Homo sapiens: one gene and its partner. The protein of the gene in region 2 interacts with the protein of the main gene of each other region in a biochemical or structural test. Each region holds a gene or a part of one and is shown on either strand. Other genes may lie near its edges. The genes, in order: SMAD4 and DACH1.

What was found.
Region 1: the proteins of DACH1 (region 2) and SMAD4 form a complex in vitro, tested with the Homo sapiens proteins (one study listed by BioGRID).

The regions. Positions count from the first base shown.
Region 1 is NC_000018.10:51,064,398-51,068,230, reverse strand, and holds part of SMAD4 (mothers against decapentaplegic homolog 4), read right to left. Parts: intron 2,809-3,833; coding exon 2,625-2,808; coding exon of another isoform or gene 2,618-2,624; exon of another isoform or gene 2,486-2,617; intron 1,213-2,485; coding exon 1,044-1,212; intron 1-1,043. UniProt on the Homo sapiens protein: In muscle physiology, plays a central role in the balance between atrophy and hypertrophy. When recruited by MSTN, promotes atrophy response via phosphorylated SMAD2/4.
Region 2 is NC_000013.11:71,857,141-71,860,973, forward strand, and holds part of DACH1 (dachshund homolog 1), read right to left. Parts: intron 1-3,833. UniProt on the Homo sapiens protein: Transcription factor that is involved in regulation of organogenesis. Seems to be a regulator of SIX1, SIX6 and probably SIX5.

The DNA of each region.
Region 1 (3,833 bases), on a different chromosome or scaffold from region 2:
AGTGTCATATAAAAAAATTCCAACATTCTTTAACTGAACTATAACTGGAAATGAGAAACTGGGTTTGCTGTTGTGAGGTAATCAGGCAATTCCATTTTTATGGATGCTATGGGGCTACATTATTTTTATCCTAAGCAACTTCCTGGTAATAAGTTATGAGACACAGTTAATTCTACCAATTTACAATCACTGACAATGAAAATGTTGAGGATGACACACAATTAAAAATATATTTAGGCTATCTAATTACAACTGCCTTTCTCTTTCAAAAACAGGTTATATTATAAAGTAAAATTCAAACAGGTTGAATATATAACTAGTGAAAAATATTTCAGGCTTATCAGGTTCTTAATTTGAAAAGCTATTAATTTTAGAATTCTCTTCCATAAAATCCTGAAGATTGGCTAAGATGAAAGTCCAGAGTCTGATTCTTACAAATTTCAAGTTACAGGAATACAACTTTGGAGGCTTCACTCAGTATTTTCAAGAGCCTTTGTATTACTCTAAAACATGTAACAGGCCTGGCACAGTGGTTCACACCTGTAATCCCAGCACTTTGGGAGGCCAAGTTGGGCGGATCACTTTAGGTCAGGAGTTCGAGACCAGCCTGGCCAACATGGTGAAACCCCGTCTCTACTAAAAATACAAAAAATTGCCAGGCACAGTAACATGTGCCTGTAATCCCAGCTACTTGGGATGCTGAGGCACGAGAATTGCTTGAACCCAGGAGGCGCAGGTTGCAGTGAGCCGAGATCACGCCACTGCATTCCAGCCTGGGCGACGAGAGCAAGACTCTGTCTCAAAAATAAATAAATAAATAAATAAATAAAATAAAAAACAAAATGTAACAAATTGGCAACGATAAAACTAGATTACTGATAATGTCAATAAATGCCCTCAGAAAATGTGTTTTTTATACTTAAACACAATTTCTTATTATTTAATATATAAAACATTTTTCCATTCCTTCCACCCAGATTTCAATTCTTTTGACAACAAATAGAGCTTTAAGTCTAAAATATTCAAATAAAATTGTAACTAACCTTTATATATGCACTTGGGTAGATCTTATGAACAGCATCTCCAGGTGCACGCCCAGCTTCTCTGTCTAAGTAGTAACTCTGTACAAAGACCGCGTGGTCACTAAGGCACCTGACCCAAACATCACCTTCACCTTTACATTCCAACTGCACACCTTTGCCTATGTGCAACCTTAGGAAGAAAAAAGAAATTACATTTTATCTTGATAAGTATTTTAAATTAAATTTTAGTTCAGATTGTATAGCATGCTTAATATTGAAAAATTAAAAATAAAGATCACATAAAACCAAAAGATAGCTATTAACATTTTTGTATATTTCCTTTTTTCTTTTCCTGTTCATATCTAATAATGATGCACATATTTACAACACTTACTATGTGTCAGGAGCATGTAGTATGAATTCTCATTAAACCCTTACAACTCAACAAGTACTATTATTCTAATTTTTTTAGATAAAGAAACTAAGGCATACTGTCCAAATTGATAGCCACTAGCCACATGTGACTATTTAAATTAAATTAAAACTAATTAGAAATCCGATTAGTCAATCAAGTGAGCTATAATTTAAGTGCTCAATAGTTACATGTGGCTAGTGGCTACCGAACTGGACAGTGCAAATATAAATCATTTTCTTCATCACAGAAAATTCTATTAGGCAGAATGGCTTAGAGGTTAGGTAATTTGCCAAAGTCACATGACAGCAAGTGATAGAGCCAAGATTATGTTCTTTAGCACACACATCCTTAAAAGCCGAGATCATACAGTAGCTAAAATGGAATGTTCCTGTAATATTTCACTGTAAGCATTTCCATTTCATTATATAAACTTTTTTTTTTTTTTTTTTTGAAATGGAGTCTCACTCTGTCACCCAGGCTGGGGTGCAGTGGCACGATCTCAGCTCACTGCAACCTCCACCTCCTGGGTTCAAGCAATTCTCCTGTCTCAGCCTCCTGAGTAGCTGGGATTACAGGTGGACACCACCACATATGGCTAATTTTTGGTAGAGACAGGGTTTCACCATGTTGGCCAGGCTGGTCTCGAACTCCTGACCTCAAGTGATCTGCCTGACTCCGCCTCCCAAAGTGCTGGGATTATAGGTGTGAGCCACCGCACCCAGCCTCATTATATAAACTTTTAAACATTTTAATGACTGTATAAAAAAGGAAAAATTTATCATAATTTACTTAACCATTTCCCTTTTATTACCAATTTTTTTAACATTATAAGTAAAACTTTCAGAAACATGTTCTCATTTAATATTACTTCCTTTCAGTAATTTGTAGAAATGTATGATCACAGAAAATAAAATTTTCAAACTGAATTTCAAAAGGTATACTTACTATTCGAAACATAGAAACCTACTAACATAAAAAAGGCTATCTTTTATCATTATATGTTAAACAACAAAAACACCGACAATTAAGATGGAGTGCTTACAAATTCTGAGTTTTCAACATGACCTTTATTCCTTTATTTATATTTAAGAACACATATAATGTACATGGGAAAACATAACCTTGAATAAAAGACAATGTACTATGCTCAATTTTTTAAAGTAACTATCTGACTATACAATCAATACCTTGCTCTCTCAATGGCTTCTGTCCTGTGGACATTGGAGAGTTGACCCAAACAAAAGCGATCTCCTCCAGAAGGGTCCACGTATCCATCAACAGTAACAATAGGGCAGCTTGAAGGAACCTTAAATGTCTCTCCTACCTGAACATCCATTTCAAAGTAAGCAATGGAACACCAATACTCAGGAGCTATAGGAAATAAATGGGAAAGAACATCCTCCCATGAGAAAGATATAAGGCTTTCACTTGCACTCCACAACACAGTTTTTCCTAAAAGAAAGGGTAAAGGGAGGGGAGATGGAAATGTAATGCACCCAAAACAACTGGATTAAAATAACATAATGCATTAAAAGGTAGGAATTTCCATGTCTTCTATTTTCTAGCTCAGTACTTAGCACTGTTCTTAAAACACTAATTTTTTTTTTTAATTTCCAATTACCACTTATCCTCAAGTTCTAAAAGTCATTTTTTAAAATCTGGAATTTGGTTCTTACCTCAAAGGACCAGGTCAACTGAGAATTTAAAGAACAGAAATAATCAGAATCTAAAATAAATTATTTTACCATGGTATTTCATTTGACTACACATATTCTCTATGTAGTCTCAACTTTTATTTTTTAAAAACACACTGACCCTAAGATGTATTCCAGGGAACTGTCCTTGAATAACATCGACTCATGACATATTTTTATAGATTCCCTAATTGAGAGAAAGTGCATAAGCAAGTCAGCTATCCCATCCCTGAGTTAAGGTTAATTATACTCTAATCACACAGTTGTTGTACACACAGATTCTCAACTGTCTCTTGGGTAGAAGGTCATTTGTCCCACCTATGCCATAGCAAAAGGTATTTTTAGTGAAGTCAGGTCATGTTAACTACCACAATTTTAACTTTGGAGATGTATTTAGTGTACTCATTTGAACAATAATATATAATTTTAAATCACTGGGAAAAAAGAGGTGCTACTCTGGTTTACAAAGACAACTGATCAAGTATTTCTAATTTTTATTTGTAAACAACAATTATTACATCAAGCCCAAATACATAAAAATTATTTGGCTTTCCTGTTTTAACTCATTTAACAGATATCTACAGAGTATCTAGGGATCTTTCTAGGCACTGCATACACAGTAGAAAACAAAACAGCTACAGTCCCTGTTCTCACAGAGGTGCAGGGGCAGACAAATAAGCAAACAAATGAAATAACTCAGAT
Region 2 (3,833 bases):
CTTATACATATATTTTTAAACAGAGAATTTAAAGTACATTATCATAAAAAAGGTTTAGAAAAATTAAGCTGTTTTTAATCACTGTCCTAATAACCATATAGCCTTGCATAATTATATCTAAAATATTTAAGTATAAACTACTTCTTTAACTCTAAAATTAATTCTTTTTTTCTGTTGTATTTCAGTAAAATAGGACCTGTTTATTGATGTATTGTTTCATGTTTTTATGTGCTACAAAAAGGTAAAATTAAAGCCAATTGTATTTTCCTAAGTTATTTGTCCTGTGGCCCTACATCCTACAGGTGTATATGTTATGTTTGCGTGTGTGTGTGTGAATGTATTCCTACACAACACATATACATGTATGTAAAGGCTTTTCTACCAAATGTACGACAATTATTTAAAGCATAGAGTACAAATGAGCTAATGCTAATACATATAAAAAATATCCACCACAGAGTTCTCTAAACTACTGATAAAAATTTTACACTTGTTGCACACACAAGAACATTCATCCTCATATAAAATGTGTGACAGGTATTATGAAAAATAAAAGTGTTCCAGGTTATTCTTTTAAAATCAAAAGGCACTATTTAAGTGTAAGTGCCTAACTCAAGAAGATAATATCATTTTGAATAATCAAATTAAATAAAAATCCTAAATTTGAAACATAAAATAGAAAGTAATACTGTTGAATGCATCAGTATATTTTAGCAGAACTATGATGGGTTCAAAGATTTGTTACACCTTAAGTGATTTACTTTGTTCATACATAAACAATATGTCTTTAAAATATAAGACTATGAATAAAACAGCCCATTTACTGTTGCTACTAATAAAATATCAGGATACAGTTTAAGATTTTAACAAAATACTCCATCTGCCTGATAAGTGAATGTAATACACTATTTCTTAGTTAACATATTCTAGAGATTTATTTTCATTGCCTTTACTGAAGAAATGACCAGTATCCCTTAAATGGAATTGATAAATATTTACTGCAAATGCTTCTGTATGTTTCCATAAAATATCTCCCTTTCAAGTAGTACACTTTCTTTCTTAAGATATATTTTGTTTGCCCTTGAAGAAAAATAAGGTTATTTTTTTCCTGTTGTAACTGGAAAGGCAATCTAATTATTTACAAACACTTGATACCATACAAATTCAAAGATCATTTAACACTGTGACTTTTTAATACTTCATGTTTACCACTCCATTCATATACGCTAAGGAAACAAAAACATTTCTCAATTATTCAATGTTACCAATCAACATCAACCAATGTACTATGTGGCCTATTGCAGTATTTGCTTCATGAAAATCATGCTTTAAAAGTATATCCATATTTTTTTTGTCAAAAATATAGGCTATCTTCAAAATCCACTTCAGGATTCTTAAAGATCTACTTATAGTCAAATCAAAGTATATTTATTTCTATTTTTCAAATCATAGAAAATATAATCACCACGTTGTACAACATTTTCTTCCTATCTAACTGAAATTTTGTAACCTTAGACCAACAGCTCTCCAGTCCCTGGTAACCACCATTCTACTCTCTGCATCTATGAGTTCAACTTTTTTAGATTCCACATGTAAGTGATATCATGCAGTATTTGTCTTTCTGTGCCTGGCTTATTTCACTTTTACTTCCTGCTAGAAAAATGTAATGTATTCCAGGTATTGTATTCAACCTGTACGGTACATTATTATAGATACTTCAGTTAAGCACTCTCTCTCTCTGCCTCTCTCTGCCTCTCTCTCTCTCTCTCTCTCTCTGTATCTCTCTCTCTGTGTGTCTCTCTCTCAGTATCAATCACTACTCTCTAAAACTTTTTTAAAAAGTAACTGGCTATTCAGTGTGTTGCTGTGCTTGTAGTTTACAACACTTCAATATACTTATAACAACAACAAAAAAAGACCAATTAAACAATGACATAGTGAGATTTCCAGTTTAATGAGTTGTCTTTGACAACTTCCAATCAAGTCACATACATTTAAATGTGCAGAAGAATCCCAGCTTGAAATCCTGGATCAATTCCAAGCCAATTTGGATCAGAAAGCAAAAGGACCACACCTTTAACACAATGCAGTCATTGGCAAATTTAATGTCCAATTTAGAAAGAATGAAAGATGATTTTTTTTAAATGGGTGAATTCGAATGCTTTTCTCTTATAAAGGAAATCTATGTCCGAATAAACCAATACATTTTAAATGCATTTGGTTCAAGGTCCTTGACTTTGGATCAAGTGGTGATTTGGGTCATTATATGTGATGTGACATATATTTTTTAATTGGACATTTATCTGCTATTCATTAAATTAATTTTAATTGTATCATTAATTTGAAAAACAATGACCTTTTTATTGATTGTCTAATAACTAATTTATAGTGGATTGAAAATTCTTTTCATTGTCATTTGTACATTTATATATAAAGCTAATCATTAGCTGCCTAAAACTAGCAACAATGGACACACTCTTAACAGATTCTCAGAAACCTCCTTAAAATAAATAGGTGTAACAAATAAAGTAATCCACCAGTAATCTAATAATAACTAATTAGTGGACCAAATATAAATATCTTATCCTTGGTATTCTTGTTTTCCAAAGCAATAATTTGGTAAACTAACTATACTATCCTAATGAAGTCATTCCTGTATGTGACATTTGCTAAAAAGCGAATATCAGCAAATAAAAGTTAGTTACAAGACAGCCACAGTAGCAAAAATTACTTTTTACTAGAAATATTTTTGGCAGATTGAGAAGAAGGAAACAAGAAATTTGAGCAAAATGTAGGTTTGCACAGAGCCTCTGCTGTGCCTGAGATGTACATATCTGTGCAGATCAGAGCCTTTGCTGTTACACTTATCTGAGCTCCATTAGGTGGGCTCTTAATTCATAGTTTTCTTCTTTAAAAATTTAATTATTGAACATAACAAACATAATAGAGAAGGGTCTCCTTAATGCAGTCCCAAAGCCTGAAAATATAAGTGTAGTCTTAGCTAGAATATTCAAACTACATATACTATATAAATATATTAATATACTACATATAATATGTAGTATTTAGACATACGTATGTACACACACACACACACACATGCATGCAGATATACATCTCTTAAACTGGCCAATCACAAAGCATTACCTCAGTAAGAAAATGGCACATGCTGACATATGCTAAGGTCATTCTATTTTTATAACAATTCAAACATAAAATGATAAAACTTTATCTTAATTACATTTTTAAATACCCAAGCCAATAATATCCATTTTTACATTTCCTGTTATTCTAAAGATATATAACTTAATGTGACTTTTTTTTTTTTTTTGGTGAACAAGCTGAAAAGGAAATACTTGAAAGATAAATTCAAACAAAGTTTAACTTTTTAAAAGAACCAAGTAACAAAAACCTTAAAATAAAAATGTTTAATGAAATCTAGATGACTCACCTGTACCTATTTAGAAGGCATAGTTCAAATTAATTTCTTCAGACAAGGATTCAAAGGGAGACAGTTTACAACCTGTGAGAGTTTAATTTCCCATTATATTTTGCAGTAGTTGTTTTCTATGTTGCTCATACAATGCAATCGAAATGACTATTTTACTTGACTGACAAAAGCAATTGTATGAAGCAATTTAGTAAAATAACTTGGAAAGATAAAATAATACTAATTGATAGTTAAAGCACAAATTGTTCTTAAAATAACAACTACTTGGTTGCACATTAAGCTAATTTACTAATGCTACTTATACTCTAAAAACAAAACATCAAATGAGAAACAATAAAGCATATCATGTTTTCATATGCTGGTGAATCACACGTAGTAAATC